Homo sapiens: one gene and its partners. The protein of the gene in region 4 purifies or fractionates together with the protein of the main gene of each other region. This does not show direct contact. Each region holds a gene or a part of one and is shown on either strand. Other genes may lie near its edges. The genes, in order: CALU, RCN2, DNAJB2, ASPM, LIMS1, KATNA1 and TUBGCP3.

Region 1 (3,500 bases), on a different chromosome or scaffold from region 4:
TGTACTGTCTAATTTGTATGAACAGCACACTCTCATGTTTATTAGCTTTCTGTGTGCACCACTTGTAAAATATTGCTCTGGGTGAACAACACTCTGGCTGACCCTCCAATAATTCAACTGATCAATCAAATCAGTTAAAGAGTAAACAGAAAATCCGAGATTTAGCGGCTCTATAAATACAACATTAAAGTGAGTATGCCTTTACTTCAGGGCAAAATGAAACTTCTATCTCAAACTATAAACAATTCTTTTTTTGAGACAGGGTCTTACTCTGTCACCCAGGCTAGATATAGTGGTGTGATGATAGCTCACTGCAGTCTGGTCCTCTGGGGCTCAGACCATCCTCCCACTTCAGCCTCCCAAGTAGCTGGGAATACAAGTGTGTACCACCATGCACAGCAAATTAAAAAAAAAAAAATGTTGTAGAGTCTCACTATGTTGCCCAGACTGGTCTCAAGCGATCCTCCAGCCCTGGCCTCCCAAAGTGCTGGGATTACAGTCGTAAGCCACCATACCCAGCCTATAAACAAATAATTCTTTAGATAAACAAAACTTTGGAAACAAAAAACAGAATTATATGTTGTTGATGTTTTGGGATATATCCCAACAATATGTATAGTGACAGAGGCTTGCAGAATCAAGTAAAATCAAGAGTCACTGCAACAAAGGATTTTCCTTATGCCTAAGGGGACTTTATCTTTAGGAAAATTTTACAAATGATTACATTCTCAAAATAAAATATAGCATAATACCCTAACAATTCTTGCCAACCCCAAATATTACAATATGAATAAATACTTATGCACTCTAACATAATCTGGTCCTGGAAAGGATACTGTACCAAGTTTTGAGACATGTAGCATACAGAAATGTAATAGATTGGTTTACTCTGTGATTTAGAGGGAAAACTACATTTATGTTTCAGGCTTAATATCTTGATACAAGGATACCAGAATTCCAAAGAGTAGAAGCCAAGTGATTTAGCTTTATCACTCACCCATTTCTCCTTCCTTCCCCTCTCCTGAATAAACTTTCAATCTCATCCCTTAAACAGGCTCCTCCATTCTGTCAATCAGTGCTTCTCAGGTCTCCACTACCCACAGTCTTTCCCAGACTGTGCTGTTCCTTCATGCTTGCTCCTCCCTTTCCCTCACCCACAGTTTCTACCCTGCTGCCTCTGCTTCCTCACTGTCCAATGCTACCCTGAAACCTGGCTTCCTTACTATTGATGAAACTGCCTACAACGGTCATCAAGGACCCAGATGGACAAAGCCAATGGTCCATCTTTACTTCTTTATCTTTCTGCAGGGAGGAATGAAAAATCTGCACTTTAAAGAAGTTCTACTTAAAAAAAAACAAAACGTCCTTTGTGCCCACATATATAACAACTCCTGGCTATTAGAAACTTTAACAAAGCCCTCTTGTTTTATGAATATAGACACTAAAAACAAAAAACACCATCCATACCAAAAACTGTACTAGATTTATCTAAAACCATATGGTTTTTGGTATGGAGCATGTATGTTCAAGCAGAAACAAAGGACATCTAAGACAAAGGATATCTTACGTGGGAAGATGTGAAAGGAACAGTAAAAAATAACTTCATACACAGCATTTGAAAATCTACTTTAGTGCACTTCGTTTTCTTTTGTTGAGACTGAGTCTGTCTCTGTTGCCCAGGATGGAGTGCAGTGGTGTGATCTTGGCTCACTGCAACCTCCACCTCCTGGGTTCAAGTGATTCTCCTGCCTCAGCCTCCTCAATAGCTGGGATTACAGGCATGGTCTACCACGCCCGAATAATTTTTGTATTTTTAGTAGATACAGGGTTTCACCATGTTGTCCAGGTTGGTCTCAAACTCCTGACCTCAAGTGATTCTCCCGTCTCGGCCTCCCAAAGTGTCGGGATTACAGGTGTGAGCTACCATGACCAGCCAGTACACTTCATTTCTGAAGCATCTTTGTCTTTTCAACCAAATTGAAACCAAATGATACAAAGTTAATGGCCCTTCTCATTTTCCTCACCCACTTCAACACTTTATAAAAGTTTAGACTGGGCCAGCAGCAGTGGCTCAAGCCTGTAATCCCAGCACTTTGGAGGGCCAAGGCGGATGGAATGCTGGTGTTCAAGACCAGCCTAGGCAATCCCATCTCCACCAAAAATACAAAAAATTAGCTGGGTGTGGTGGCGCAGCTATAGTCCCAGCTACCGGGGAAGCTGAAGTGGGAGGATCGCCTGAGCCCCGGAGACACGAGGTTACAGTGAGTCATGATCATGCCACCACACTCCAGCCTTGGTGAGGGAACAAGACCCTGTCTCAAAAAAAGAAAAAGAAAAAAAAAAGTTTAAATTGGATACTTTTGTCCAAAAAGTAAAAAAAAAGTTTAGAGGAATAGGTACAGATCACTTCCAGCTGGAAAGATCTTTGTGTATCCATTGGGCCATACATACTGATCACAATACTGGTCCAATGGATATACTATGGACATAATGGACAACATAATATTAGGAAAAATATGATACACATAAACAAAAGACTTAGCTGTATGAGCTTTTATCATGTGATCTAGAAAGTAAACCAATGGTTGTGAAAACTGAATTTCCCCACCTCCCATTTCTCAAATGAGTTTCTCTCTCTAAAATTCTGTCCCTCTTCCACGAAGGGTAACATCTAATATTTTTTTCTTGGGAAAAAAAAAAAATCTAGGCCTGTACTGCCCAGTACAGTAGCCACTAGCCACATGTGACTACTAAGCACTTGAAATGTGGCTAGTGTGAATTGCGATTGGTATAAGTGTTACATTTCATATTGAAAGAATGGTATTTTATATGTATTAGATTAAACATTATTAAAATTACTTTCACCTGTTTTAGATTTTCACCTGAAAATTTAAAATTACATATGTGGCTTGTATTATATTTTTATTGGACAGCATGTTAGACACAAACCAAAAGATTAGAACAGAAAATATATCCAGTAGCTATCATCCTTTTGTAGTATTAGTATGTCACCAATAATGGTCTTCTATAAAGTTGTTTTCATGAATCGTTCCAGTAATTTATAAAGAGAAAAGCCTAACTGGGTTAAGTGTGATTTTAATAATAATGAGTCTTAAGAATTGGTTTCTTCGATCCATCCAAAAATGTCCTTAAAAGCTCTAAATTCTTATCACTTCTCCCTACCCCACCCTTCAGGTAAGAACTTAGAGCTTTCAAGGAAGTTTTTGTCCTTAGTGTCCATAGTGTATCCATTGGACCAGTATTGCGAGCAATACATGGCCCAAACTTTCAATTTTGGTAAAGTGCCATTGGTCACAGAATACTTAAATTGTTTCAGGGAAATTTAGATGTTTAAATTCAACTTCACAAGAACGTTAACACTGAGTGATCCAACAGTTATTATGGTTGACCAAAGACCCATTGCTCAATGTTAACAATTGGGAGAAATGGGTGTGGTAGTAAAATTCCAGTTCTCTGAGCTGGATGGATATTCACCAGAA
Region 2 (3,500 bases), on a different chromosome or scaffold from region 4:
CACTGAAGGTAACACAGTTATGAGAGAAAATAGCCTGAGGAAGCCTGCTGTTCATACATAGTACAGAGATTTAAAAATTCAGTCTTTCACCTTCTCCCTCCCAATAAGCAACTTCGTCACCACAAGAAAGCCTCCTTACCAAGCCTAATTTTAAGTGGGGAGAATGAGCATCATTTTAAATCTGTGTATCTCTTAAAATTCTGGTTATACAATTCATTTTAACAACTTAATGAACAGGTTTTAAAGTTTTGGTTACTTGGAAATGTAAATTCATACAACCACTATGGAGAACAGTTTGGAGGTTCCTCAAAAAACTAAAAATAGAGCTACCATATGATCCAGCAATCCCACTGCTGGGTATATACCCAAAAGAAAGGAAACCACTATGTCAAAGAAATATCTGCACTCCCATGTTTGTTGTAGCACTGTTCACAAAAGCCAAGATTTGGAAGCAACCCAAGCGTACATCAACAGATGAATGGATAAAGAAAATGTACATATACACAATGGAGTACTATTCAGTCATAAAAAAGAAAGAGATCCTGCAACAACATGTTGATCCACACAACAGCATGGATGAACTGGAGATCATATTAAGTGAAATAAGTCAGGCACAGAAAGACAAACATCCCATGTTCTCACTCATTTGTGGGATCTAAAAATCAAAACAATTGAACTCATGGACATAGACGGTAGAAGATGGTTACCAGAGACTGGGAAGTGTTGGGGGAGGGGGCGCTGAGAACAGTTAATGAGTACAAAAAAAACAGTAAGAATGAATAAGATCTATTATTTGACAGCATAACAGGGTTGACTATAGTCAGTAGTAACTAATTATACATTTTAAAATAACTAAAAGAGTGTTCACGGGATTGTTAGTAACACAAAGGATAAAAGTTCGAGGGGATGGATACCTCATTGTCTATGATCTGATTATTTCACATTGCATGCCTGTATCAAAACATCTCGGCCGGGCGCGGTGGCTCACGCTTATAATCCCAGCACTTTGGCAAGCCGAGGCGGGCGGATCACGAGGTCAGGAGATTGAGACCACGGTGAAACCCCGTCTCTACTGAAAATACAAAAAATTAGCCAGGTGTAGTGGCGGGCGCCTGTAGTTCCAGCTACTCAGAGAGGCTGAGGCAGGAGAATGGCGTGAACACGGGAGGCGGAGCTTGCAGTAAGCCGAGATCGCCCCACTGCACTCCAGCCTGGGCGACAGAGCGATACTCCGTCTCAAAAAAAAAAAAAAAAAAAAAAAAAAGTCTCATGTATCCCATAAACATATATACCTACTATGTACCCACAAAAATTTTAAATATATTTTTTTAAAGTTTTGGTCACTCAATAATTCTCTTAAAAATGTTTCTTTCTTACCGTCATATAATCAACTTCTTCAGGATGCTCAAAAGCAATAAATTCTTCAAGACTCAAACCGGGACCTGAATCCTGGTTAGCTTTTTCAAATCGCTTCTTGTCCTTTAAGTGAAGCTTTGAAAATTAAAATTTCTCATTAGTATACCACATCATTTTAAATACTTTGAAAAATACAAACTATGTGAAATTTAAAGTACATTCCCATCCGTTATCTCATTTATCTTCACATCGTCCCTTTGAAGGTAAGCTACACAAATACATGTATTAGGGGCAGGATAGACTCACAAGCTCTAGAGTCATATAGACCCAGACCTGAATTCCAGCAATGCCACTTACTAGCTGTGGTGTCAGCGCAAACTGCTTAACCTCTCTGGTTTCCTCATCTATCAAACTGGGATAAAAATCTCTAATAAGCAATTGGGATGAGAATCCCTACCACACCATTAATAAACCTTAAGTATTTAGTGTTATATACTATTATTGATAGAAAAGCAGATTGAATGATTTGATAAAAGTCAGAAATACAGCTAAAAAATACTGAGCATGGCATAGTGGCGCACGCCTGTAGTTCCAGCAACTTGGGAAGACTGCATGAGCCCAGAAGTTCAAGGCCAGCCTTCACACCATAGCAAGACCCTGACTCAAAAAACAAACAAAACTACTGAACTTGGATCCTCCCTATTCTTTCTACAGTACTATACTGTCTACTTTAATAATTAATCTCAATACTTTTTTGAATGCCCAAAAATCAATAACTTTATACCATGTATTAAATCTTGGTAGGGCTTTTAAAAAATGTTTCTGGTCCTCTAAGTGACTTTTCAAAAATACATTATTGTTTCAGAAAAACAGTCTTCTTATGTTGAGAATCTCATAATATTAGTATATGTACCTAATATTTGGAAATCTTTTCTTTTTTGGGGGGTGGGGAGATGAGGTCTCACTCCGTCATCCAGGTTGGAGTACAGTGGTGCAATCTCGGCTTACTGAAACCTCCACCGCCCAGGTTCAAGTGATCCTCCCACCCCAGCCTCCCAAGTAGTGGGGACCACAGGCATGTGCCACCACACCCAGCTAATTTTTTGTATTTTTGATAGAGATGGGGTTTCACTATGTTGCCCAGGCTGGTCTCAAACTCCTGAGCTCAGGCTATCCACCTGCCTCAGCCTCCCAAAATGCTGGGACTACAGGCATGAGTCACCGTGCTCAGCCTGGAAGTCTAGTCTTAGCAGGCTCTTTATAGTGTTAATTCTGTATATTCAGATATAAATAACATCAAAAGTTTAAATGGATCCCATGTTAAGGTTTAATAAACACATATCCTTTTCTACTTTCTCTCCCATCTTCCCATCCACCCCCCTTTTTAAAAATGATTCGGCAGCTATCAGGGACAAGGCTGCTTTTGATAAAATTTTCAATGGTAATTCTGTAACCAAGAGCCTTGGGAGCCAATAATGCTATACTGCTAATCCTGCATAATTTCTGTTTTGAGAATTTCTGGGAATAGCTTTCCTTCCTATAAACTGATATGTATTAAACTGTGCATTTTTTTAAAGCACAATTTCAAATATTTTAGAAGCTTTTAAGTGTTTCACTACTGAATAAAAATACCCTCTTCAGTCTTCTAGAATAATAGAGGTCAGGTAGCAGTCATTTACCTAAACACTAGTTCTTTTACAATTACTGATTTACAGCGGAGAGGCTCACCTCTTTCCCCAAAGAATTTGTTTTATTAACATCAGACTCTACAAGCCAGTTATATTCACCCAATCATGACAGAAAAGAAAAAATAATAACTTGTTTCCAAATAGCTTTTAACTTAATGTTTCAAAATTTTAAATAACTAGACCAAATAATTTGCATTTTATGTTCAGGTTTAACATGGTAAAAGCAGACAAACAAGAATTTGAGGTACTTTGCTGAGTCAATCAAGTTCTTTTTGAATAAACCATTATTCAAAATACCAAGTGCTTTGATTTCCTTATGAAAGAACCCTTCACTTTGGAGCAAAAAGGTCCATGTTTCAGGAGAAGAGCTAAATTTGGCCAAATTTGCCTATGGAAAGAAAGGATCTCTTTCAACAAGCTGAGATTTCTTTAAAAAAAAAAAAAGTGAAGGGGGTA
Region 3 (2,515 bases), on a different chromosome or scaffold from region 4:
TTTTGTTGTTTTTTGGGGGGTTTTTTTTTTGGTATTTTTTTAAGTAGAGATGGGGTTTTGCCACGTTGGCCAGGCTGGTCTCAAACTTCTGGCCTCAAGTGATCTGCCCGCCTCAGCCTCCCAAAGTGCTAAGATTATAGGCGTGAGCCACCGCGCCCAGCCTCAGTTAAGTCTTAACTTGAGTATGGTCCTAGCTGTGCTGTGGAGTACTAGGGGGTGAGGCCACTCATAAGGGGAACATCGGCTGCTAGGGAAAGCCAGTTGTAGGCCCCCAAGAGGTGAAAGCAAAGAATGAAGCATTGCTTGGGGTTCCATAACATACCTGGGGAGGGCAGCCTGGTCAAAGAGGGCATTTCTGCCTTCAACTGGCAAGGCCTGCACCTCTAGCTGTAGGGGCATAAAGGGAGGTGTGAGGCCTGAGGTGTCACCCACTGTCCCTTAGAGGCCCTCCTGGGCCACCCCGGAAAGTAGGAACCCAAGAACACAACACACCACCAAGCTCTCAAAACTCAGTTTTATTGACTTCCAGCATTTCCCCCTGGATCTGAGCTCAGCCCAGCTGGTTTTGGTTCGTCTCTGAGGCTCAGTGTTACAGCGACTGGCTCCACCACTCCCCTCCCTGGCCACTGGGCTCCCCAGGCAGGGAGGAGGAGAGGCAGTTCATCTGTGATGTTGGAAAGAATGGGCAGCAGGGTCAGAGGCCAAAGAAAGCCATACAAGCAGCGGCATGCCTGGAGCTGCCATCACATGCCAAGCCCCACCACACACACGCCCCCGCGGGTGGCCTTGCCCTCGAAGCTCTCTGCCAGCCCACACTCCTCAGCTTTCTGGGGCCACACCCTGCTCAGGCAGACATGCCACTCGCCCTGGCTTGTTCCTGGGACCCCAGGCTGCCCAAGGGAAAGGTACCGCTCCCAGGTGCTGCGCGGCTCTGCCCTGCCCACTCTAACCCTGGGGCTAGCAAGACGTGTCAGGGGAACCAAGGCTCAGATCATTCCCCCTTCATCTACAACCCTGCCAGCCCTACAGGGATAAATCAAAAGACAAAATCTCCCCATCTCACAGCGAGTGACAAGCCGACCTGGGCTACTACATGTCCCAAGATGCACAGCTCCGTAACCATACACCACCTCCCCCAAGCGGGATCTATCAGAAATGAGGCCGGGCACACCGCACTCTGGGATTTGTAGTCCCCAGGAGCCAGCACCAAACACCCAAGGAAGAGAGTGCACAGGCTAAGACTACTGCCACCTCCCACCCGGCCCCCACCCGCCACCCAGGCCCCGGCTCTACACTCAGCATGGGTGAGGGGGAGAAATGGAGGGTCCCCTCCCAGCGCATGGGGGAAGGCGCTGTCCTGTTGGAACTGTGCAGCGATTCTGGAACCCGGCATCCAGCTCAGAACACATCTGGGGAGAGAGCAGGGGCGGGGTGACAGGAGAGAGCGTCAGCGGCAAGCTGTGGAGGATGGGGCTCAGCATGCAGACCTGGGCTGGCCGCATGGCCTCTCCCTGAGCCCTGATTTGTGGTAGGGAAGCAGTATGGGTGCAGTCCCCTCCTAGGCCTCCCTCTGGGGTCCCCCGGTCCTATCCCACCTCTTCAGGGTGAGCCAGCCTCACCTCTGCCTAGTCCTGAGGGTGAGGGCAGGCTGAGGCAACGAGAGGGAGGAGGAGTGGGCTCCAGTTCTGAATCTGGACAGCTGAGAGGCTCCCGCCCCACCCGGCTAGCCTCCCCAGAAGATCTCACAGCCCTACCGGCCCCAGCATCTTCCTCGCCACATTGAGGCCTTCTCGGGGAAGGAAGGAAGAAGGGAGTCCTAGCCAGACGGCAGTGAAAGCAAGCGATGCGGCCCGCAGGGAGTTGCAGAGAGAATGGGAGGGAGGAGAAGCAACACCAGAAGAGAAGCAACAGAGACGGTCAGAGCGCAACATGGCACAGAAACCAGGGTTGGGGGTCTGCAGCTGGTCCAGGAGAGCAGGAGGCTCCACTCTGCCTGCACTGCTCTCCAGTGGAGCTGCCGGCTCCGGCTCAGACAACCCTAGGCCAAGTCCTCCTTCCTTGACACCATCAGCAACACAGGTGGCAGAGTACCAGGGCACAAAAGGCCCAGCCCAAACCACTAATGCCCCTTGGAGCTCCCCATCCAATAAATGCAACCTGGCTCCTCGGGCCCCTCCACTGCCCTGACACCCCCCACCCTGGGCTTCACCAGGGACCTATCAGCCCTGGGCTGAGCACAGCAAATCCCAAGTCCACACTGGGGTGTGGGGGGCCTGGGAGGGAAACTTGTGGAGGGAGCTTGGAGTTGGAAAGCAGTTCCTACAACTCAGGATACTCCCCTCTTCTCTTCCCACAGTGAGTCAGACCCCCCAGTCAAGATCTGGATCAGATCAGGTTGGGCCCGGTGTTCAGAGGATGAGGCAGCGAGAGGCCTTCTCCTCTGGGGATGGACTGCGTTTGGTTGCTTCACCCCTCGCACCCTCCTGGGTCCCCCCCAAGCCTGGATCTTGGTGCT
Region 4 (3,500 bases):
TGCATATTCTCAGCACCTCGTAGAGAGTCTGGAATATACAGACACAATAAGTTTTGGTTGAATCTAGACTTTAGCCTCTGTAAACACAAAATAAATTGTGGTTTATGGTCTGTGACTTCTGGATGTTGGTTTGATAAACCACTGAATTCATAGCATTAGTGCGTGGAGTACAGTGGTTATTAAGTGTTTGCTAAATGAATATGATTGTGAAGAACCCAAACTTTAACTTTCAAATCACTGACCTATTTAGGGAATTTGTATTTTAATGCTCTTAGTTTTGTTTTCTAATTTATTTTAGATTTATCAATATTCAGAACTCCAATTTCTAAAACAAACAAAAGGACAAAACCCATTATCGCTGTGGCACAGTCCAGTTTGACCTTCATAAAACCATTAAAAACAGGCAAGTATTTATTATACTTAAACTCTCTGAAAACATGACATCGAATGAAGCATTAATTGCATTTCACATGGAAATGAATTGATTTTTGTTGTTGAATAACAGCCTGGAAGAATTGTTAAAGTGTGTATTAAAATGACAGGATATTGTGTCAACTTTCTGTTTGATAAAAGAAATAAAGACCAAATGTTCAATAGATCAGTAGGGTCACTATAGTAATTATTGTATATTTCAAAATAGCTAGAAGAGAATAACTGATGTTTCTAGCATAAAGAAAAGACAGATATTTGGACTGCGGGCACCCACGACCATGCCCGGCTAATTTTTTTGTATTTTTAGTGGAGACGGGGTTTCACCGTGTTGGCCGGGGTGGTCGGGCAATCTCCTGACCTCGTGATCCCTCCCCTCGCCTCCCAGGGTGCTGGGATTTCAGGCGTGAGCCACCGCGCCCGGCCAAAAACATGGGCTGTTATCCTTTGCTGTGGTAGGGAGTATGGATGAAGTGAAAGTTGGTAAAAGGATGGTCAGAGGCCGTCACTAGCCTTGGGGAGTTTTCCAAGTGGAAAATGAAAATCACTGTGACTTCGTTAAGCTCCAAGATATGCTTCTTTGTACCAATGTGGAAAATCTAAAAGAAAAACCTACACTCAGCACTATGAATGCTGTAGGTACCAAAAACTGCAGAAAATGGGCTTTACAGATCTGGGCCCAGACAACCAGCCAGTTAGTTTTCAAGAAATCTTTGAAGCCAAAAGACAAGAGTGCTATGATCAATGTCAGAGAGAAGAAGAGTTGAAACAGATTTATGCAGCGAGTCAAGGAGAAAGAAGCTGAAAAAGAGCTGCAGGACAAGTTCAAGCATCTTAAAATGATTCAACAGGAGGAGATAAGGAAGCTCGAAGAAGAGAAAAAACAACTGGAAGGAGAAATAATAGATTTTTTATAAAATGAAGGCTGCTTCTGAGGCACTGCAGACTCAGCTGAGCACCAATACAAAGAAAGACAAACATCGTAAGAAATAATCGTTTCTCTTAATTTTCTGTTTGAGAGCCCTATCATTCACATCCCAGCTTCCTGTGATTGTATTTGTAGCATTTAAATCTGATTGAAGTTCTTATTTTAAAAATTGGCTTGCTTATTGTATATTTTCCCTAACTAAAGTGTGAACTCCTAGTGGGGCGTGGTGGCTCATGCCTGTGATCCCAGCACTTTGGGAGGCTGAGGCAGGTGGACCATCTGAGGTCAGGAGTTCAAGACCAGCCTGACCAGGATGATGAGGCCCTGTCTCTGCTGGGAATACAAGAGTTGGCTGGGCTTGGTGGCCGGTACCTGTGGTCCCAGCTGCTTGGGAGGCTGGGAGAGTCACTTGGGCCCCAGAGGTGGAGGTTGCAGCGAGCCAGGTTCTTGCCATTGCACTCCAGCCTGGGCGACAAGGGCGGGACTCCATCTCAAGAAATAAAAAGGTGTGAACTCCCTGAAGACAGGTCCTGTGTCCATCTTTTCAGATTCTGTATCCTGGCACTTAGGATGTAGACTAACACGAAGATGACATTCAATCAATATTTGCCAAAATGAAAAAATAAACATGTAACATCATGTTAAAGGAGCAGTTTAGGTGGAGAAATTTCTTTACCATAGTCCTGCTTGTGGATCCAGTAGTGACTTTTACATTTTATATCTAAATAGAAGCTTGAGGCTTTGTTGGGGACTCATAGGCATAAAATATTATGTTATACAAATCTAATTAATAGGCCTATTTTCCTTTTTAAATTCTAATAATTTCTTGATAGTTTTTATTATGATAAAAGATTGGATTTTGATTAGAACTCTCATGCTTTTATGTCAGACTTAAAACTGATATTAGAATAAAGAATTCAAAAGCTAGAGAAAATCAGAGTACAATGAGAAGCCATGAGTTGCATTTGAATGATAATATTATGTCTTACAGATTTGGGGTATACGCTAAAGTTATCAAAGTTGTAAAAATAAGGCTGGGTGCAGTGGCTTACACCTGTGGTCCCAGCACTTTGGGAGGCCAAAGTGGGCGGATCACTTGAGGTCAGGAGTTTGTGACCTGCCCGGCTGGCATGGTGAAACCCCATCCCTACTGATAATGCAGAAGTTGGCTGGGCATGATGGTGTGCACCTGTAGTCCCTGCTACTCGAAAGGCTGAGGCGGGAGAGTCGCTTATACCCAGGAGGCAGAGGTGCAGTGAACAGAGATTGTGCCACTGCACTCCAGCATGAGTGACAGAGCGCTATGAGTCACTACACCTGGTATGAGCCACCATGCCCGGCCTACGATGACTTTTATACATGTTGTTAAATCATCTTACAGATTTTATAATTTGGGGGAAGAAAAATTTTACTAAATGGTCTTTTAATGGAAACTACAAGAACCAGAATCTTTGCTTTGTTCACTTAAGTGTCCATTCCTAGGCCTAGAACAATGTCTGACACATAGCGGCAATTATTCCTTGAATAAATGGACCCAGCAATAGTACATTAGCTATGCTATATGCATAAATTAAAAATGTAGATTATTGACTTTCAAAAAATAATTAATGTGACTTCTTACTGCTTCTGAACATGTTTGTGAGTTATATTGCTGAGGGACCTTTATCTTCTCATTCTTTCATCTTAATCCAATGTTATTAAAATTGAAATCACCAATATTATTCCATATCTAAAAATAATATCTACCTTATAAAAATTATCACTCTGCTGCATTTGAGAATAGACTTTTTAGGTAATAATAGTATGATCCATAGGGTTTTTTTAGGGCACAGAAGGATTCATGCTAACAGAACATTTTATTTTCTATTTTCCCAGAGCTATAAAACATGATATTATATGATAACTATAAGGCATATTTTTACTCTGTTCATATTTTTTCTAAAAAAAATTAGTGTTTGTTTCCCATATAACTTTTAATTTTATAAGTAAATATTTGTCTCTTTCAGCTCCAGTTTTATGTGAAATAGAGTTTCCAGATTTATGTAGCATGGAGAGTTTTAATAAGTCAGAGTTACTGATTTTTGCCAGTCATTTTCTCAGTTGTTAACTTCTTTTATCTTTAGTTGATTTTTTTTGTAGTGAC
Region 5 (3,500 bases), on a different chromosome or scaffold from region 4:
CACAGTGATGTTATCAGCCAGCACCATGCCTGGGAGATCACCAGGGCAGGAGAGGTATAAAATGCTCCAGGGGCAAGGTTCTGAGAAGATGCCCTGCCACTGTATGAGGCCACAACCTGCTGTGTATAACCTCATCTAAGCACAGAGAAGCACCAGGTGAACCCAAGTGGAAAGTAGTCTATTAAAAAGGGGTTAGGGGCCCTCTGCATCCCTCCAAAATGTCAATGTCATCAAAAATTTTAAAAGACTCTGGAAACGTTCCAGATTTAAGAAGGCTAAAGAAACATCACAGCCAGAGGCTGGGTCCAGTCTGGGAGTGGAAAAAATGCTGTGAGGATATTGACTCAAGTGACAAAACTGGAATAAATGGTTAGAGTACGGTATCAATATTGATAACTACAATTATGTTAGAGAGTCCCATATTCTTGGGAAATATACACTGAAGTATTTAGGGATAAAGGAGTATGATGAACTTATTGGCAAAACAGCCATCGTACTTGTATATAATATTTACGTAACTATGTGTTTTACACAGGAAGACTGAGCTTGGGAAATGATAAAGCAAACTGTGGACTTGAATGAAAGACATACAGGTATTCTTTGTATATTTTATAGTTAGCTTCTGAGTCTGAAATTATTTCCCAAATAAAAAGTTAAAAACAAATCTCTACTGAACAATGTACATCTTCCAAGAGATTTCCTTGTAGCTAAACTACTGATAAGCTTAGGTTCATAAAAGTCTATCTAGCATCCAGTGACTAAGGTCAATACCTGGTTATAGTGAGTTTCACAATATGCCAGGCCTTTCCTCTCATAATGGCGATGTCCAAGAAAGGGTTTCTCACACTTGGCACAAACAAAATGCTGAAAAAAAATTGCTATAGGTCATTTTTGAATTGCCATATTTTATATCTAATAAAGTAAATACCAGAGTTAACCTATTTTCAGAGAAGATGAAGGAAAGTTTGAGACAGTCATTTCATTTGGCCATAGGTGGCCCCATAATATAATACTTCTGCAGTTGTAATTCAGGTGTCTGTCTTTGAAGGTTACTTTAAGACATAGCCTATTATAATAGCCCAAAAAGAGAATAGAGGTGAGCATCTCAGTAGCACCTATAAAGGAGGAGCTGCTGCTGGATACAGACCATGGCACTTCCTGCTTCAAGAAGGCTTTAGGAGCAAAAGTACACATCCTGTATCATTACTGAGACATTCACAAAAGCAGTGTACATTATATATTCTTAGCTGTCAGCAAAGTCAATTGTCTTTAAAATGTCCACGTTTAATCTTTAGAGTCTCCTAATCTTGCCAGGACACCTGAATCATGAAGATTTGAAAGTACTGGTTACCCCTGAATCATGGGAGATCTGAAAGTATTGGTTACCCCTTAATCATGGAGATTTGAAAGGATTGGTTACCCTTTGCCATTTAGAACTCACCTCCACATGCCACTGCTTGCCCATAGCGTTCACCACGCGCCCTTCGATGGGCCGTCGGCAAGCACCACAGATGGGGACCCCCATTTTATCATGGCATGGGAGGCAGTATAGCTCCCCTTTCAGCTCCCGTGCATCGGCAGTCAGCTCCTTCCTGTCCGTGAGAAAGACACACAGCTTAATACTAAGAGAGAAAAGTGGCCAACCAATGGGGCTAGCACACTTTTTAGAAGGTTTTTAAAGACATTACTATGACAATCCCTGCAAATTTCTTTTTTCCCCTTTAGAGGTGATCAGAATAACCTGAATTAATAGGCCTGAACAGGTTTCAGACTCCTACCAAAACATCTGTATCTTAAAAGGATAAGATGCAAGACTAGGTCAGATACATACCACCACACCAGTCATATTCATAATTTCCTTCTTATATTATCACATTACATTTTAGTCCATTTGTCTTCCTCTAAAAGCTACAGGGAATAATCACAGTGCTGAGGGTAGACTCAGTAATACTATCTGCTATGGTGTGACTGTGTCCCCAAAGTTCATGATCCCCAATTCTGAGGTGTTGAGAGGTAGGACCTCTAAGGGGTGATTACATCATGAAGGCTCTGCCCTCACAGATGGATTAACGCTGTTACTGAGGGGGTGGGTTCCTTATAAAAGGACGAGTTCAGCCTCCTTCCTTCTCTTCCTTCCCCCCTCCTCTTCCCCCACCATGTGATGCCCTCTGCTATGTAATGATGCAGAAGAAGGTCCTCACCAGATGCCAGCCCCTTGATCTTGGACTTCCCAGCCTCCAGAACCATGAGCCAAATAAACTTCTGTTGGTTACAAATTACCCAGTTTGTGGTATTCTGTTACAGGCGCATAAAATAGACTAACACACGACCTTTCCAAGCAAACTGAGAAGTTGGGAGACTAGTTCCATTTACTAACAATTATTTAAATTGTCACAAGCTGTTGAAAATAGTTATAGGTTAATAGGTTTATTTTCATAAACAACAAAATGCCCAGAATTTTCCTTCTCCAAATACTCAAATTAAATATTATTTTCAGTCTCCTGCATCAATAAACATTTGGTCAGAGATGGTCCCAATTAGTCAAACGGACTTGTTTGAATTTCATCCCTTTTATGTAATTCTCTAGGAGAGATGCTAATGAAAAGTGGACAGAGGTGAATCCCCAAGAGGAAGGACAGGCAAGAAAACGAGATAAGGCACAAACTGATAATTCAATCACAAAAGATGAGATGGCTGAACTTATACAACCAAACTGTTTTCTTTCTTTCTCTTTTTTTTTTTTTTTTTTTGAGACGAGTCTTGCTTTGCTGCCCAGGCTGGAGTGCAGTGGCGCGATCCACACTCACTGCAAGCTCCACCTCCCAGGTTCATGCCATTCTCCTGCCTCAGCCTCCCGAGTAGCTGGGACTACAGGCACCCACCACCACGCCTGGCTAATTTTTTTATTCTTAGTAGAGATGGGGTTTCACCATGTTAGCCAGGATGGTCTCGATCTCCTGACCTCGTGATCCACCCGCCTCGGCCTCCCAAAGTGCTGGGATTACAGGCGTGTGCCACTGCACCTGGCCCAAACTGTTTTCTTAGTATTTGGCTTACTGTTTCTTCTCCATCCCTACTATAATTTAGCAAGTAAGTTCACATTAACTACAGTAAAGAATATTTTTTTATTTTTATTTTTTGAGATGGAGTCACGCTCTGTCTCCCAGGTTCGAGTGCAGTGGTGCGATCTCAGCTCACTGCAACCTCCGCCTTCCGGGTTCCTGCCATTCTCCTGCCTCAGCCTTCCAAGTAGCTGGGACTATAGGCACCCGCCACCGTGCCCGGCTAATTTTTTTTGTATTTTTTAGTAGAGACGGGGTTTCACCGTGTTAGCCAGGATGGTCTTGATCTCCTGACCTCGTGATCTGCCCGCCTCGGCCTCCCAAAGTGCTGGGATTACAGGTGTGAGCCACCACGCCCGGCCAAGAATCTTTATCCACTAAATTTTTATACTAGGCAGCAAACTGAGAAAAATTCATAGCCCAACAATTTATCATAAC
Region 6 (3,500 bases), on a different chromosome or scaffold from region 4:
CAATATTTAAATCTATAATACAAACTAGGAAATCTATTATGTAAGTGAAATAGATAACATCCACCTGCACACTTGTCAGTTGAAAAATGTGCAGTAAAACTATGCATGATTGGCTAGTTACAGTATTTCAGTAAATATCAGTATCACTAGTTGTTCATCTGCTGGCACTTGGTAGTAGGAAGTTGGGGAAAAAAAGCCAGAGAAAACCCTAAAATTCAGAACATTTTATTTTTACTGTTCTCTATGAATTAAAAAGCCAATTTTTTCAATTTTAGCAAATTTAGAAAAATTTTCCATTTTTCATTATAGCTTGATGAAAAGAAGTATTCTGTGATCCCTGTTTGAGAACCACTGTTAGTCTAACTTCCTCTCTTTGCGTAAGAAAAATCTGAGGCCTGGCTGGGCACGGTGGCTCAGGCCTGTAATCCCAGCACTTTGGGAGGCTGAGGCAGGTGGATCACGAGGTGAGGAGAACGAGACCAGCCTGGCCAACATGGTGAAACCCCGTCTCTACTAAAATACAGGTGGTGTGTGCCTGTAGTCCCAGCTGCTCAGGAGGCTGAGGCAGGGAAGTCACTTGAACCCGGGAGGCAGAGATTGCAGCGAGCCGAGATCGTGCCACTGCACTCCAGCCTCGTGACAGAGTGAGACTCTGTCTAAAAAAAAAAAAAAGAAAAAAAAGAAAAATCTGAGGCCTAAAAAGGTTTTATTATTTTCCCAAAGCTACAGAGAGTGGCAAAGACAGACACGGAGCTTGGATATTTCAATTCCTAACCCCATTCTCCTTCCACAAGATAACACTGTCTCTACCACTGTAAGGTCATTCACAAAAGCATATTTTTAAATTATTCCTACCTAAATCTTATTTTTTGAAATAGGTCAAAAAGGCACAAGGTTCAAGACCAGTGAGTTATAAAAGAGAGAACGTTCAGTAAAGAAAACTCCCTCCCATTCCTGTCTCTCAGCCACCCCATCCTCCTCCTAAATATAATCAATGCTATAAGCTTCTTGGGATAACTGGTTTCTTAAAAGGTTTCCACTTACCTTCGTTCAACAGGTACAGGCATGGACCAGACTTCTCCCTCAGAAGCTGGAAGGTCATGCTGTGCCGCTTTCAAGGGAGTGCTGTCCAGTTTAAAGCTCTCTAGTGTTTTCATGATATCTTTAACATGTTTAGCTTCCACATTTATTTCCTGCCAAACCTGATTTCAAAGAAGAAGATGGATGTTTAAATTTCTATAATATATCACTGTCAAAATTAAATGAGGGCCATTTACTAGAGATGTTACAAAACTCCATTTTGATATCAGATATCCAGTAAACCACATCAAGATATTCTATCAAAATGTTAATAACAGTTTATTAAATTTATGTTTTCAATTGCAATTTTTTTTTTTTTTTTTTTTGGAGATGGAGTCTCACTCTGTCGCCCAGGCTGGAGTGCAGTGGCGTGATCACTCTCGGCTCATTGCAAGCTCTGCTTCCTGGGTTCAGGCCATTCTCCTGCCTCAGCCTCCCGAGTAGCTGGGACTACAGGCGCCCGCCACCACGCCTGGCTAATTTTGTGTATTTTTAGTAGAGACAGGGTTTCACCATGTTAGCCAGGATGGTCTTGATCTCCTGACCTCGTGATCCACCCGCCTAGGCCTCCCAAAATGCTGGGATTACAGGCGTGAGCCACTGCGCTCGGCCCTCAATTGCAAAATTAATTCTGATAAAATGAATTAAAACATCCAGGATAGGAAACATCCACGCCTGTAATCCCAGCACTTTAGGGAGGCTGAGGTAGATGGATCACTTGAGCTCAGGAGTTTGAGACAAGCCTGGCCAACATGGTAAAAACCCCATCTCTACTAAAAATACAAAAAGTTAGCCAGGCATGGGGGCAGGCACCTACAGGCCCAGCTACCTGGGAGGCTGAGGCAGGGGAATCTCTTGAGCCCAGGAGATGGAGGTTGCAGAAAGCCAAGATCACGCCACTGCACTCCAGCCTGGGCAACATAGCAAGAATCTGTCTCAAAAAAATAAAAAATAAAAAAAAAATCCAGGCTAACTAAATCATACTACTAATTTATATTCTTATTTAAATTGCATAGCCGGGTGTGGTGGCACATGCACGTAATCCCAGCTACTCGGGAGGCTGAGGCAGGAGAATCGCTTGAACCTGGGAGGCGGAGGTTGCGGCAAGCCGGAGATCACACCATTGCACTCCAGCCTGGGCAACAAGAGTGAAACTCCGGCTCAAATAAATAAATAAATAAATAAATTGCATAACAGGCCAGGCGCGGTGGCTCACACCTGTAATCTCAACACTTTGGGAGGCCAAGGAGGGCAGATCACCTGAGGTCAGGCATTCAAGACCAGCCTGGCCAACATGTTGAAACCCCATCTCTATTAAAAATACAAAAATTAGCTGGGTGTGGTGGCGGGCACCTGGAATCTCAGCTACTTGGGAGGCCGAGCCACAACAATCGCTTGAACCCAGGAGGCGGAAGTTGCAGTGAGCCGAGATCGCACCATTGCACTCCTGCCTGGGCAACAGAGCAAGACTCCATCTCAAAAAAATAAAATAAAATAAAATAAAATAAAATAAAATAAAATAAAATAAATTGCATAACAAATTGAAAAGTTAGGCATAACTTTAAAGTTCTACAAGAATAATTAGCTGGGCATGGTGGCCCATGCCTGTAGTCCTGCCTACTTTAGAGGCTGAGGTGAGAGAATTGCTTGAGCCCAAGGGGGAAAAAAAACCATCAAAGCACAACTTGTGAAAGTTTCATTTTTGTCAAACTTTTATTTTTATGTTTTAGAGACAAGGTTTCATTCTGTTGCCCAGGCTGTACTACAGTGGCACGATCATAGCTCACCATAACCTCAAACTCCTGGGTTCAAGCCATCCTCTCACCTCAGCTTCTCAAAGTGCTGGGATTACAGGTGTGAGCCACCATGCCCAGCCCTACTTTGATAATTTTTATTCTGTTTAATTAACTTTTAAAATGCTGATTAATCCCAATTACCCTGATTTGATCATTAGATATTGTATACAGGAATCAAAATATAATGTGTATGCCCAAGATATGTACAACTATTATATATCAGTAAATAATTTCTAAAAATCAATACAACACTGATCAGAATATACTAATTTTATGGCTAATGGGTCACAACCTACAGACTAAAATAGGTCTCAATTCATATGCAACCAAGGTATTTTTTTAAAAGCAGTCTTTTTTTTTTTTTTCAAATATTTTTTAGAGACAGGGTCTCATTCTGTCATCCAGTCTGGAATGCAGTAAAATGGCCCTAGTTTTGAGAGTAAGGCTCCACCTCAAAAATAAAAGAGAAAAGGAATCTTGACGCAATTTAAAAACTAATCTTGGGCAACATAACAATAACCCATCTCTAAAAAAAATATAAGCCAGGCATGTTGGTTTGTGCCTGTGGCCCCAGCTACTCTGGAGGCTGGGTGGGAGGATTGCTTGAGCCTGAGGAGTTAAGGC
Region 7 (3,500 bases), on a different chromosome or scaffold from region 4:
GTGCTGCCTGGGGAATCACGCAGCTGGGAGTGTCCCCTGTTGGCAGGCCCCGTCCCAGCAGGGCCCCTCCTCAACCTTCTGGAGGAGGCAGCAGCAGCTGGGCAGGGCCCCCTTCGAGCGTTTGGAATCGGGCAATGCCAGCTCCCCATGGCCAGCTCTGTCTCACCATTTTCTCTGTATTTTACAGTCCTCCAGCAGTTCCTGAGCCAACCTGCTGTATTCAGTGTCCTCATCAGCACCTACTGTGGTTTCTACTGTCTTGAGTGGACCCTGAAAGTTGACTCTCAAAGCTGCTTTACTTGGAAAGAGCCTTAGAAGGAGCTATTTCACAGTAAGATTTCAACTAGAGTAAGCGTTTCCCAAAGTGCGCAGCATCCCAGCATCCTAGGAACCATGAACGCACCTGCCCGACGAGTCCGAATGAGCGGTCCAGGCTCCTCTGGTCCGTGTATCTTCTGATTTTATTATGCAACCATCCCAACTCAGAAAGCCTGACTGCTGTGTCTCTCAAAGACCTACTTAGATTTGCCTAAAAAGTAAATACATCAAATGTTAAACATTAAAAAGCAATACTAGAGCTTTAATTAGTATTTTTCTCAAGCACTTCTACTTTTAATACTATAATCCTTAGGCTTCAAGACATAAAAGTTAAAACTAAGATCCCATCACTAAAGGGAAGGAAAGCACATTAAGTGACAGCATGATGGAAAGCACCTCAAAGGGCATGGTGAGCTCATTTCACACCACCCTGCAGTTGGCCTGCGGTGTGGCAGAGAAGGTCTGTGATCTCAGCCACGCTGTGAAAGGGCTAAGAGCCACAGTGTGACCCACACCACAAGAAATGGGCATGGTAAAGGCAGATTATGGAAAAAGGAAACAAAAGTGGGTGAAGACCCCTGACCTGGAATCCTGCATCAATGCCGAAGGTGCCAAGGGACCTCTGTCCCCTGGGTGCCTCAGCCATCACACAGCAGGATGCAGAAATCAGCTATGGGGCAGCCCCATCAGTAGACGTGAGGAAAGGAGGCACACATTAATCACAAAGGGTCCCCATAACAAAACTGAACGAGCCACAATGGACAGAAATAGAAACCAGAATTCCACAGTGCAATTTCACCTCACAACCGATTCGCAAAACCCCAGTACCACCTTATCAATCAACAGCCACTATCTGGACTTCATGACATGTTTTTTCTTTCTGAATATTTTAACTTAGATTTTATGTTACTGTACCTTTCCTTCTACTTTGTAACAATTTTCAGTGTTGTTCATTTTGATGTTTTTGCCATCTATGCCCTGAAAGACGTACAAAATGTCCCTTACCAGAGCTGCTTCTGTAATTTCCATAGTACCTGCAAAATCATTTTTTAAAGACAGTAATTACTAGACAATATTTTAACAGACAATAGATATTATGGTGCAATTAGCTTCAGATTAGATATTTGCCACCCCGATGAAATTTACTAACTCAATAAATAAGCTCAAGATGAAAAAGAGTATGAGATTAGAAAGAAACAAGGCGAGTCTCAGTCTAGAGGTTGGCCTGCTGTGCCATGAACGCACAGCTGTCAAACACGACATGAATCTGCAGCTGTGGACAGAGGCTGGACGCGGGAGCCACACACAGGGACAGGCGGAGTGGGGCAGATGGTGGAGACTACTGCGGGGGCTAATACTGTGCCAGGATGTCCTCCAGCTCTCAGATGCTCCTCACCTTTGCATTCTACGCAAGGACAGGTACAGGTAACATCCAGAGCCATTTCGTAATCAGCAGATTACGAGCCAACAGGGAAACCCAATCCTCTGTTTTCAGGACACTCATGTTTCAAATGCTGCTAACTGTAGTGTTCTCAATAAAGAAACTCAAGCTTCCTTTTGGAATCTAGCAGGGCTTTAAAACCCTCCATGAGGTATTCATCTCACCATTCAGTAATTCCTCAATGACTCTCTTCGACGTGCCAGGCACTGTGCTGAGCACTGGCACCATAAATGAAAAGACATAGCCCCTCTGTGGCCTTAAGACTTTGGTAGAAGAAGGTGACTTTTACTGGGGGCCTAACCCAGCCTTAAAGACTTTCCCAGGGAAACGGCAGGATGAAAACAGACAGGGAGAATGTGATGAGGAACAGCAAAGACGAGAGATGTGGAGGGAGGAGGCCACATGGAAAAGCAGCCAAAAAGCAGACTGTGCTGGGAGGAAAAAGCCCAGGTGGCCTGGGGTGAAAAGCCAAACTCCCCAAGGCGCCGCAGACCACCAGGGACTCTGGACTTCATCATAAGAACAAGAAGAAACCACTAAAAGGTTTGAGGTGGGGCTCCTGGGCTGTACTTTAAAATAAGGAGAGGCTGAATTCCAAGTGTTCACAGAAAAGCTGTATTAACATAGATCCTTACTCACCACCCGTATCCCCTTCTCTCCTGGACCTTGTCATGTTGCGAGACACAGCACTGGGGACACCTTTTGAGGTAGTGGCTTGTGAAGAAGGCTGATTTGCAGTTAAAGTCCATGCGAGTCGTGACCCCAACTGCTGTCGAAGGCAATCTCCTACTCCTGGAGCTTGATTAGACTGTCTAAAAAAAGAAACATGTATTATCTTCTAATAGGCTATTCGCTGAAGAGACAAAAGTGTCCCTAGAAATTTCTCTTGTATTACTATCGTGAATTACATAAATTTATAAATCTGGTATAGCTGATACCATGACTTTACCCTAACCGAATATATCAATAACAGACAGTCCCAAGTCCCTTGAACTTGGTCAAGCCTCCTTGCGACCCTTGGCCTAGCATTCGGACCCAACACAGCAGTGGAAAAATCATCTTACTGCTACCTTACAATATATATTTCTTACCATTAATATCAAAATCTATTTGGCTTTTCTTTATAAACATATAACATACCTTACCCACCCCATAACCACTTTGAAATTCTCTACTTATTTTAACTTCAAAATCCACAACTCTCGTTCACTCCCCATGTACTGAGCAGAGGAATCGAGTCACTGTGACACTGCCCCAGGCGCCTGGCCTCACCTGTCTTCAGCCTTCAGAGTGCTCACTATGAAAAGAAACTGCAATTTTCAATTAACTGCTAAAGTATACAAACGTATAAAATCTAAGGCAAATGCATATTCAAGGTCAAGATGGCTTGTCAGCAATTTTGAGACTATGTCAAAGTTGTTTTTTGAAAAATGTAAGAACCTCATAGCTGATTTCTAATAGCGTCAGTTTTGACAGGTGCAACAAAAATATCACTTCCTGGGACTACAAAACACAAAAATGAGAACCTCAGCTGCTCTACAGTTTCCAGGTGCCAGAGCTTGGATTTAGTACTGGTGCAATACTGGGGGGGTTTATCCATAATCCACTCGTGAAGTAAGGAGAACAGGAAAGAACTGAAACAGTTCTTATTTTATTCCATTTTCATCAGGAGAGAAGTCAACAACATTCACTAAAACTATGTCTCTGGGCATAGTTCTAAATTTAAGAGGATGATTCTAAA

What was found.
Region 1: the proteins of ASPM (region 4) and CALU purify together in Homo sapiens (affinity purification with mass spectrometry; one large-scale study listed by BioGRID and IntAct). This does not show direct contact.
Region 2: the proteins of ASPM (region 4) and RCN2 purify together in Homo sapiens (affinity purification with mass spectrometry; 2 studies listed by BioGRID and IntAct, with this or other methods). This does not show direct contact.
Region 3: the proteins of ASPM (region 4) and DNAJB2 purify together in Homo sapiens (co-immunoprecipitation; one large-scale study listed by IntAct). This does not show direct contact.
Region 5: the proteins of ASPM (region 4) and LIMS1 purify together in Homo sapiens (affinity purification with mass spectrometry; one large-scale study listed by BioGRID and IntAct). This does not show direct contact.
Region 6: the proteins of ASPM (region 4) and KATNA1 purify together in Homo sapiens (pull-down; one study listed by IntAct). This does not show direct contact.
Region 7: the proteins of ASPM (region 4) and TUBGCP3 purify together in Homo sapiens (pull-down; one study listed by IntAct). This does not show direct contact.

Annotation. Positions count from the first base shown.
Region 1 is NC_000007.14:128,742,359-128,745,858, reverse strand, and holds part of CALU (calumenin isoform a precursor), read right to left. Parts: intron 1-3,500. UniProt on the Homo sapiens protein: Involved in regulation of vitamin K-dependent carboxylation of multiple N-terminal glutamate residues. Seems to inhibit gamma-carboxylase GGCX. Binds 7 calcium ions with a low affinity.
Region 2 is NC_000015.10:76,941,749-76,945,248, reverse strand, and holds part of RCN2 (reticulocalbin-2 isoform a precursor), read right to left. Parts: intron 1,492-3,500; coding exon 1,378-1,491; intron 1-1,377.
Region 3 is NC_000002.12:219,284,881-219,287,395, reverse strand, and holds the end of DNAJB2 (dnaJ homolog subfamily B member 2), read right to left. Parts: coding exon 2,409-2,515; 3' UTR 1,410-2,408; coding exon of another isoform or gene 1,399-1,409; 3' UTR 501-1,398; downstream 1-500. UniProt on the Homo sapiens protein: Functions as a co-chaperone, regulating the substrate binding and activating the ATPase activity of chaperones of the HSP70/heat shock protein 70 family. In parallel, also contributes to the ubiquitin-dependent proteasomal degradation of misfolded proteins.
Region 4 is NC_000001.11:197,136,670-197,140,169, reverse strand, and holds part of ASPM (abnormal spindle-like microcephaly-associated protein), read left to right. Parts: intron 1-298; coding exon 299-403; intron 404-862; exon of another isoform or gene 863-1,622; intron 1,623-3,500. UniProt on the Homo sapiens protein: Involved in mitotic spindle regulation and coordination of mitotic processes.
Region 5 is NC_000002.12:108,673,970-108,677,469, reverse strand, and holds part of LIMS1 (LIM and senescent cell antigen-like-containing domain protein 1), read right to left. Parts: intron 1,593-3,500; coding exon 1,442-1,592; intron 865-1,441; coding exon 772-864; intron 676-771; exon of another isoform or gene 540-675; intron 157-539; exon of another isoform or gene 1-156. UniProt on the Homo sapiens protein: Within the IPP (ILK-PINCH-PARVIN) complex, binds to F-actin, promoting F-actin bundling, a process required to generate force for actin cytoskeleton reorganization and subsequent dynamic cell adhesion events such as cell spreading and migration.
Region 6 is NC_000006.12:149,631,715-149,635,214, forward strand, and holds part of KATNA1 (katanin p60 ATPase-containing subunit A1), read right to left. Parts: intron 1,203-3,500; coding exon 1,045-1,202; intron 1-1,044. UniProt on the Homo sapiens protein: Catalytic subunit of a complex which severs microtubules in an ATP-dependent manner. Microtubule severing may promote rapid reorganization of cellular microtubule arrays and the release of microtubules from the centrosome following nucleation.
Region 7 is NC_000013.11:112,553,654-112,557,153, forward strand, and holds part of TUBGCP3 (gamma-tubulin complex component 3), read right to left. Parts: intron 2,572-3,500; coding exon 2,399-2,571; intron 1,353-2,398; coding exon 1,234-1,352; intron 530-1,233; coding exon 404-529; intron 1-403. UniProt on the Homo sapiens protein: Component of the gamma-tubulin ring complex (gTuRC) which mediates microtubule nucleation.